Linked DNA regions of Homo sapiens. The protein of the gene in region 1 purifies or fractionates together with the protein of each later gene. This does not show direct contact. Each region holds a gene or a part of one and is shown on either strand. Other genes may lie near its edges.

Region 1 (3,500 bases):
CCTTTCAACAACCCTATTAGGTAGACCATAGTAATTATTTTATGCATAAAGAAATTTGGAGATACAAATGGTAAGGAACTTGATCAAATTCACATAGGTAATAAGTGATAGAGGTACTCTTAGGAGTTCATATCTCAGTTGATAACTACACTGCCTCTCTCATCTAAACCACATTCCATTTTACCTAAATACTGCAACAGGCTCCTATCTGACCTCCTTGCCTGCACTCAACTTCTCTTCAATGCATTTATCCTGAAGTTAGACCTTTATAACCACAAAATATAATCATGACACAATCCCACCATCCCCGATGCCCTCCATAACATAGCCCTGCCTACCTGTCCTGCCTTATCCTGTGTTAGCCTTCTCCTCAACCTTTGGACTCTGACTACCTTGACTGTTTCATTCCTTCCTACCCCAGGACCTTTGCACAGGCAGTCACAGGCAGTTCTCTCAACCTAGAAGGCTCTTCTTTACTTCCAATGCTGTCCACCTTACCTATTGGTATGGTTTGGATGTGCCTCCATCCAAATCTCATCTTGAATTGTACTCCCCTAATTCCCACATGTTGTGGGAGGAACCCAGTGGGCGATAACTTGAATCATGGGGGCAGTTTCCCCCATACTGTTCTCATGGTAGTGAATAAGTCTCACGAGATCTGATGGGTTTATCAGGAGTTTCCGCTTTTTCATCTTCCTCATTCTCTCTTGCTGCCGCCATGTAAGAAGTGTCTTTCACCTCCTGCCATGATTCTGAGGCTCCCCAGTCATGTGGAACTGTAAGTCCAATTAAACCTCTTTTTCTTCCCAGTCTCAGGTTGTTTTTGTCACCAATGTGAAAATTGACTAATATACCTACTTAACTTCTCATTGTTCACATCGCAAGTTTGATGTCACTTCACGCTAGGGAAAGCCTTCCCCTAACTAGTTCAAGTTCTGATAGGTCATGGCAGATTCTGTTAATTTATTACTAGATCATCAGTTTCAAGAGGGCAGGGCAGTATTTGCATACTTTGTTCATCAATTTATCTCCGGTGAAAACCCCAGTGTTTGGCTCAGGAATGAGTCACTTTTATTACAGCTACAAGTCTTAGCTCCCGTGCCAAAGTGCAGATTCTTTGAGGTCCAGGACTGTGCCCTAGAGAAGCAGTCAGCGACAGTAAAGAGAACATGGCCTTTGCCCCATACTAATTCAAAATCCAGCTACACCACCACCGTATCTGAATGCATGACTTCTCAAGTCTCAACTTCCTCATCTGTTAGTGGAAATAATGACATTGTCAAGTCTAAAAGAGATACTAAAGATAGCTTGCTAGTGAATCTAGCACCAAATGCTTCTTGATCTTTCTTCCAGGGTGCATCTTTGGGTCCCAGGGGATCAATGACATAAGCAGTGAGAATAAAAAGCTAAGGTTCTGTGACCACCCCATACAGTTCATCACAGGCCGTGGCTTCCTTCTCTACCACTTGGCATGTCACCATGTGAAAACATGCAAAATATCACAGTGAGCAAGAGGTTAAGGATTTGCTAGGAGGCAAAGGGAATAGAATGAACATGGTACATGTTAAGTATCCACTAAGTGCCAGGCATTTTCATACATTATCTCATTTAATAAATAGCAAAAGGAAATCTGACTCTACAAATGAGGAAACGGAGGCTCAGGCAGGTTAGGTCTCACCTGTGGTCTCAGCACAGGTAAGTGGTAGAGACTCTGACCTGAACCCAAGTCTCTATTCCTCCATTGGACTTGCTCCTGCCACCCCAGGACACAACCTCAAAATGAATCTCTTCCTCACTCTTGTTTCTGGGTAAGTGTGCATTAAAAGGCCCAAGGCATGTTTATGCATCTTTACTGTCAACCTGACCCTGATGTATGTGGGAAGAATCAGGCAACTTAGTAATATTTGAGCATGCATTACCTCAAGATTAAATATTTGCAAATGAATTAAACATGTTAGAGTCTATATTTTTTTTTTATTATACTTTAAGTTTTAGGGTACATGTGCACAATGTGCAGGTTAGTTACATATGTATACATGTGCCATGCTGGTGTGCTGCACCCATTAACTCGTCATTTAGCATTAGGTATATCTCCTAATGCTATCCCTCCCCCCTCCCCCCACCCCACAACAGTCCCCAGAGTATGATGTTCCCCTTCCTGTGTCCATGTGTTCTCATTGTTCAATTTCCATCTATGAGTGAGAACATGCAGTGTTTGGTTTTTTGTCCTTGCGACAGTTTCCAATTTCATCCATGTCCCTACAAAGGACATGAACTCATCATTTTTTATGGCTGCATAGTATTCCATGGTGTATATGTGCCACATTTTCTTAATCCAGTCTATCATTGATGGACATTTGGGTTGGTTCCAAGTCTTTGCTATTGTGAATAGTGCCACAATAAACATACGTGTGCATGTGTCTTTATAGCAGCATGATTTATAGTCCTTTGGGTATATACCCAGTAATGGGATGGCTGGGTCAAATGGTATTTCTAGTTCTAGATCCCTGAGGAATCGCCACACTGACTTCCACAATGGTTGAACTAGTTTACAGTCCCACCAACAGTGTAAAAGTATTCCTATTTCTCCCCATCAAGCTACCAATGACTTTCTTCACAGAATTGGAAAAAACTACTTTAAAGTTCATATGGAACCAAAAAAGAGCCCGCATCACCAAGTCAATCCTAAGCCAAAAGAACAAAGCTGGAGGCATCACGCTACCTGACTTCAAACTATACTACAAGGCTACAGTAACCAAAACAGCATGGTACTGGTACCAAAACAGAGATATACATCAATGGAACAGAACAGAGCCCTCAGAAATAATGCCGCCTATCTACAACTATCTGATCTTTGACAAACCTGAGAAAAACAAGCAATGGGGAAAGGATTCCCTATTTAATAAATGGTGCTAGGAAAACTGGCTAGCCATATGTAGAAAGCTGAAACTGGATCCCTTCCTTACACCTTATGCAAAAATTAATTCAAGATGGATTAAAGACTTAAACGTTAGACCTAAAACCATAAAAACCCTAGAAGAAAACCTAGGCATTACCATTCAGGACATAGGCATGGGCAAGGACTTCATGTCTAAAACACCAAAAGCCATGGCAACAAAAGCCAAAATTGACAAATGGGATCTAATTAAACTAAAGAGCTTCTGCACAGCAAAAGAAACTACCATCAGAGTGAACAGGCAACCTACAAAATGGGAGAAAATTTTCACAACCTACTCATCTGACAAAGGGCTAATATCAAGAATCCACAATGAACTCAAACAAATTTACAAGAAAAAAACAAACAACCCCATCAAAAAGTGGGCAAAGGATATGAACAGACACTTCTCAAAAGAAGACATTTATGTAGCCAAAAGACACATGAAAAAATGCTCATCATCACTGGCCATCAGAGAAATGCAAATCAAAACCACAATGAGATATCAGCTCACACCAGTTAGAATGGCAATCATTAGAGTCTATATTCTTAAAAGCTACATGCT
Region 2 (3,500 bases), on another chromosome or scaffold:
AAAAAAAGAAAGAAAGAAAAAGGCTAGGCACGGTGGCTTATGCCTGTAATCCCGGCACTTTGGGAGGCTGAGGTGGGCGGATCACGAGGTCAGGAAATCGAGACCATCCTGGCCAACATGGTAAAACCCCGTCTCTACTAAAAATACAAAAATTAGCTGGGCGTGGTGGCACATGCCTGTAATCCCAGCTACTAAGGAGGCTGAGGCAGGAGAATCGCTTTAACCAGGGAGTTGGGGGTTGCAGTGAGCCGAGATGGCGCCACTGCACTCCAGCCTGATGACAGAGCAAGACTGTCTCAAAAAAAAAAAAAAAAAAAGAAAGAAAGAAAAAGAAGATTAAATGAGAGTATACATGTAAAAAAATTTGCTAGCACATTTGCTAGCACACAGTAAGTGTTCAATGTTAACTTACTATTATTGTTGTTACTATAACCGTATTTCTTCAATCTGAAAAAGCACATTTTCTTACATCTCAACATATATGAATCTGGGATATATCTTATAATTGATGCATACATTTATTAAGGCAATGTTTGGGGGAGTTATTTTGTTTTTGTTTTTCCCAAATATCATGTCATGATCTACGTTTGTCTTTAAATCAGTATTATTTTAGTATCAAGGCAATGCAGTATTTATGAAATAATATCTTCAACATTTATACTTCTATAAGCATTAGGTTTACTTGTAAAGAAAAAACATAAAAATTTACATTTTCTGTCTTTGGAGATAATAATCGTCTATGAGTCTAATAGAATAATTTCGTTTTATCAGTCAGCAAAGAAAAAAATCTCAAAACATCCTTCTTTGTCTAAATATTTAAAATACTGTAGTCTTTAAAACAAAACAAAACAAACTTTATTTAGAAAAAAAAATCTTTACAAACCCCATAAGAAAAAAGATCCTAATTCATATGCAGAAAGTGAAAGTCACCTCCTTCACCCTGTTTCAGGCATTATAAATACAATCTACCTTATGGGTTCCACCAAGCTGTTTCTGTACTATAAAGCCAACGGTTTTAGAAATACAATGCACAGGGCCGGGCGTGGTGGCTCACGCCTGTAATCCCAGGACTTTGGGAGGCCGAGGCGGGTGGATCACGAGGTCAGAAGATCGAGACCACCCTGGCTAACACAGTGAAACATCATCTCTACTAAAAATACAAAAAATTAGCTGGGCATGGTGGTGGGTGCCTGTAGTCCCAGCTGCTCGGGAGGCTGAGGCAGGAGAATGGCATGAACCTGGGAGGCGGAGCTTGCAGTGAGCCGAGATTGCGCCACTGCACTCCAGCCTGGGCGACAGAGCAAGACTCCGTCTCAAAAAAAAAAAAAAAAAAATATATATATATATATATATATATAGAAATACAATGTGCAGAACTTCACAAACTATTACTCACCTGGTCTGTTTCTCTAAATTAGATGCATTGACCTCAAACACTCTCTCAGTATCCCATTTCTGTTGGATTTCTTTCTCAATCTTCTTCAAAAAGTCCACTTTGGCTGTTCCTTTTCTTTCCTATTGGACACAAAGAGAATAATCCACTCTGTATTTCAGCACGCTTGCTTTAAAAAAGAATTGGGTTCACAGAACTGAGCTGCTCACTGATAAAGACTGATTTTTCCATGGTTATCTTGAAATTTAAATGAACATTAAAAATTAGGGTTATCAGCCAGGCGCGGTGGCTCATGCGTGTAATCCCAGCACTTTGGGAGGCCGAGGCGGGTGGATTGCTTGAGGTCAGGAGTTCGAGATCAGCCTGGCCAACAGGGCGAAACCCATCTCTACTAAAATACAAAAATTAGCTGGGCGTGGTGGCGGGTACCTGTAATCTCAGCAACTCAGGAGGCTGAGGCAGGAGAATCGCTTGAACCAGGGAGGCGGAGGCTGCAGTGAGCCGAGATCATGCCATTGCACTCCAGCTTGGGTGACACAGCAAGACTCCGCCAGAAAAAAAAAATTAGGATTATCATGACCTGTGTACCTCAAACCTCAAAGAAATGGTTGAACAATTACTGAAATATGTAAAAGGCTTTGATATGCTTTTTTAAAATTATATACTACAATGTAACACTGTCATCAAATGTTTCTATTTAATTAAAATACATGAATATCAAAGATACTGATAGAGAACTTCTCTCCAAAATTGTTAAAGAACTGTTCATATGAAATTTAAATAAAACAGGCTGGACACGGTGGCTCACGCCTGTAATCCCAGCACTTTGGGAGGCCGAGGTGAGAGGATCACCTGAGGTCAGGAGTTAGAGACAAGCCTGGCCAACGTGGTGAAACCCCATCTCTACTAAAAATACAAAAATTAGCTAGGCAAGGTGGCACGCATCTGTAATCCCAGCTACTTGGGAGGCTGAGGCAGGAGAATCGCTTGAACCTGGGAGGTGGAAGTTGCAGTGAGCCAAGATTGCACCATTGCACTCCAGCCTGGGCAACAAGAGCGAAACTCCATCCCCCACCAAAAAAAAAAAAATACCTGGACTCTTTTCAAGTTTCCATAAAACAGTGATTGTATAAGGTATTTTCTTTTCTAAGAAATAATAAGCCTGCACAACTGTTCATCCCTTTCCATTCCTGCTACTAACCACCTTCATTTAGACTATCAACGCCACTGCCCCCTCTCACTTCAAAACCTCTTCTTAATAAGTAACTTGGCTGGATGTAGTGCCTCATGTCTACAATCCCAACACTTTGGGAGGCTGAGGAGGGAGGATTATTTGAGGCCAGGAGTTTGAGACCAGCCTAGGCAACATAGAAAGACCTCCTCTTTAAAAGAAAAACAATTTTTTTGGCCAGGTTTGGTGGCTCATGCCTGTAATCCCAGCACTTTGAGAGGCCGAGGCAGGTGGATCACCTGAGGCTACGAGTTCAAGACCAGCCTGGCCAATATGGCGAAACCCCATTTCTACTAAAAATACAAAAATTAGCCGGATGCGTTGGCATGCGCCTATAATCTCAGCTACTCGGGAGGCAAAGACAGGAGAATTACCTGAACCCAAGAGGCGGTGGTTGCAGTGAGCCAAGATGGAGCCACTGCACTCCAGCCTAGGCAACACAGCAAGACCAATCTCAGCTCACTGAAACCTCCATCTCTGGGGTTCAAGCAATTCTCCTGCCTCAGCCTCCCGAGCAGCTGGGATTACAGGTGCGTGCCACCATACCTGGCTAATTTTTGTATTTTTAGTAGAGACGAGGTTTCACCATGTTGGCCAGGCTGGCCTCAAACTCCTGACCTCAGGTGGTCCACCCGTCTCAGCCTCCCAAAGTGCTGTGATTACAGGCATGAGCCACCCAGCCCGGTCTGTAAAATATAATTTCTAATATTTTTACAGAGGAAAGGACCCACCCACAAAGGCAAAAGTATGTAGGGCCTCATGAAGCCTAGTCATATCTCCTACCCTACGGTCATGGGTAATATGAAATTTCACTGTATTTATGTGTGTGTGTCTGTGTGAGAGAGAGAGGGTCTCCCTCTGCCACCCAGGCTGGAG

Evidence for each region.
Region 2: the proteins of GDA (region 1) and LARS1 fractionate together in Homo sapiens (co-fractionation; one large-scale study listed by BioGRID). This does not show direct contact.

What each region holds. Positions count from the first base shown.
Region 1 is NC_000009.12:72,152,440-72,155,939, reverse strand, and holds part of GDA (guanine deaminase), read right to left. Parts: intron 1-3,500. UniProt on the Homo sapiens protein: Catalyzes the hydrolytic deamination of guanine, producing xanthine and ammonia.
Region 2 is NC_000005.10:146,176,151-146,179,650, forward strand, and holds part of LARS1 (leucine--tRNA ligase, cytoplasmic), read right to left. Parts: intron 1,516-3,500; coding exon 1,397-1,515; intron 1-1,396. UniProt on the Homo sapiens protein: Aminoacyl-tRNA synthetase that catalyzes the specific attachment of leucine to its cognate tRNA (tRNA(Leu)).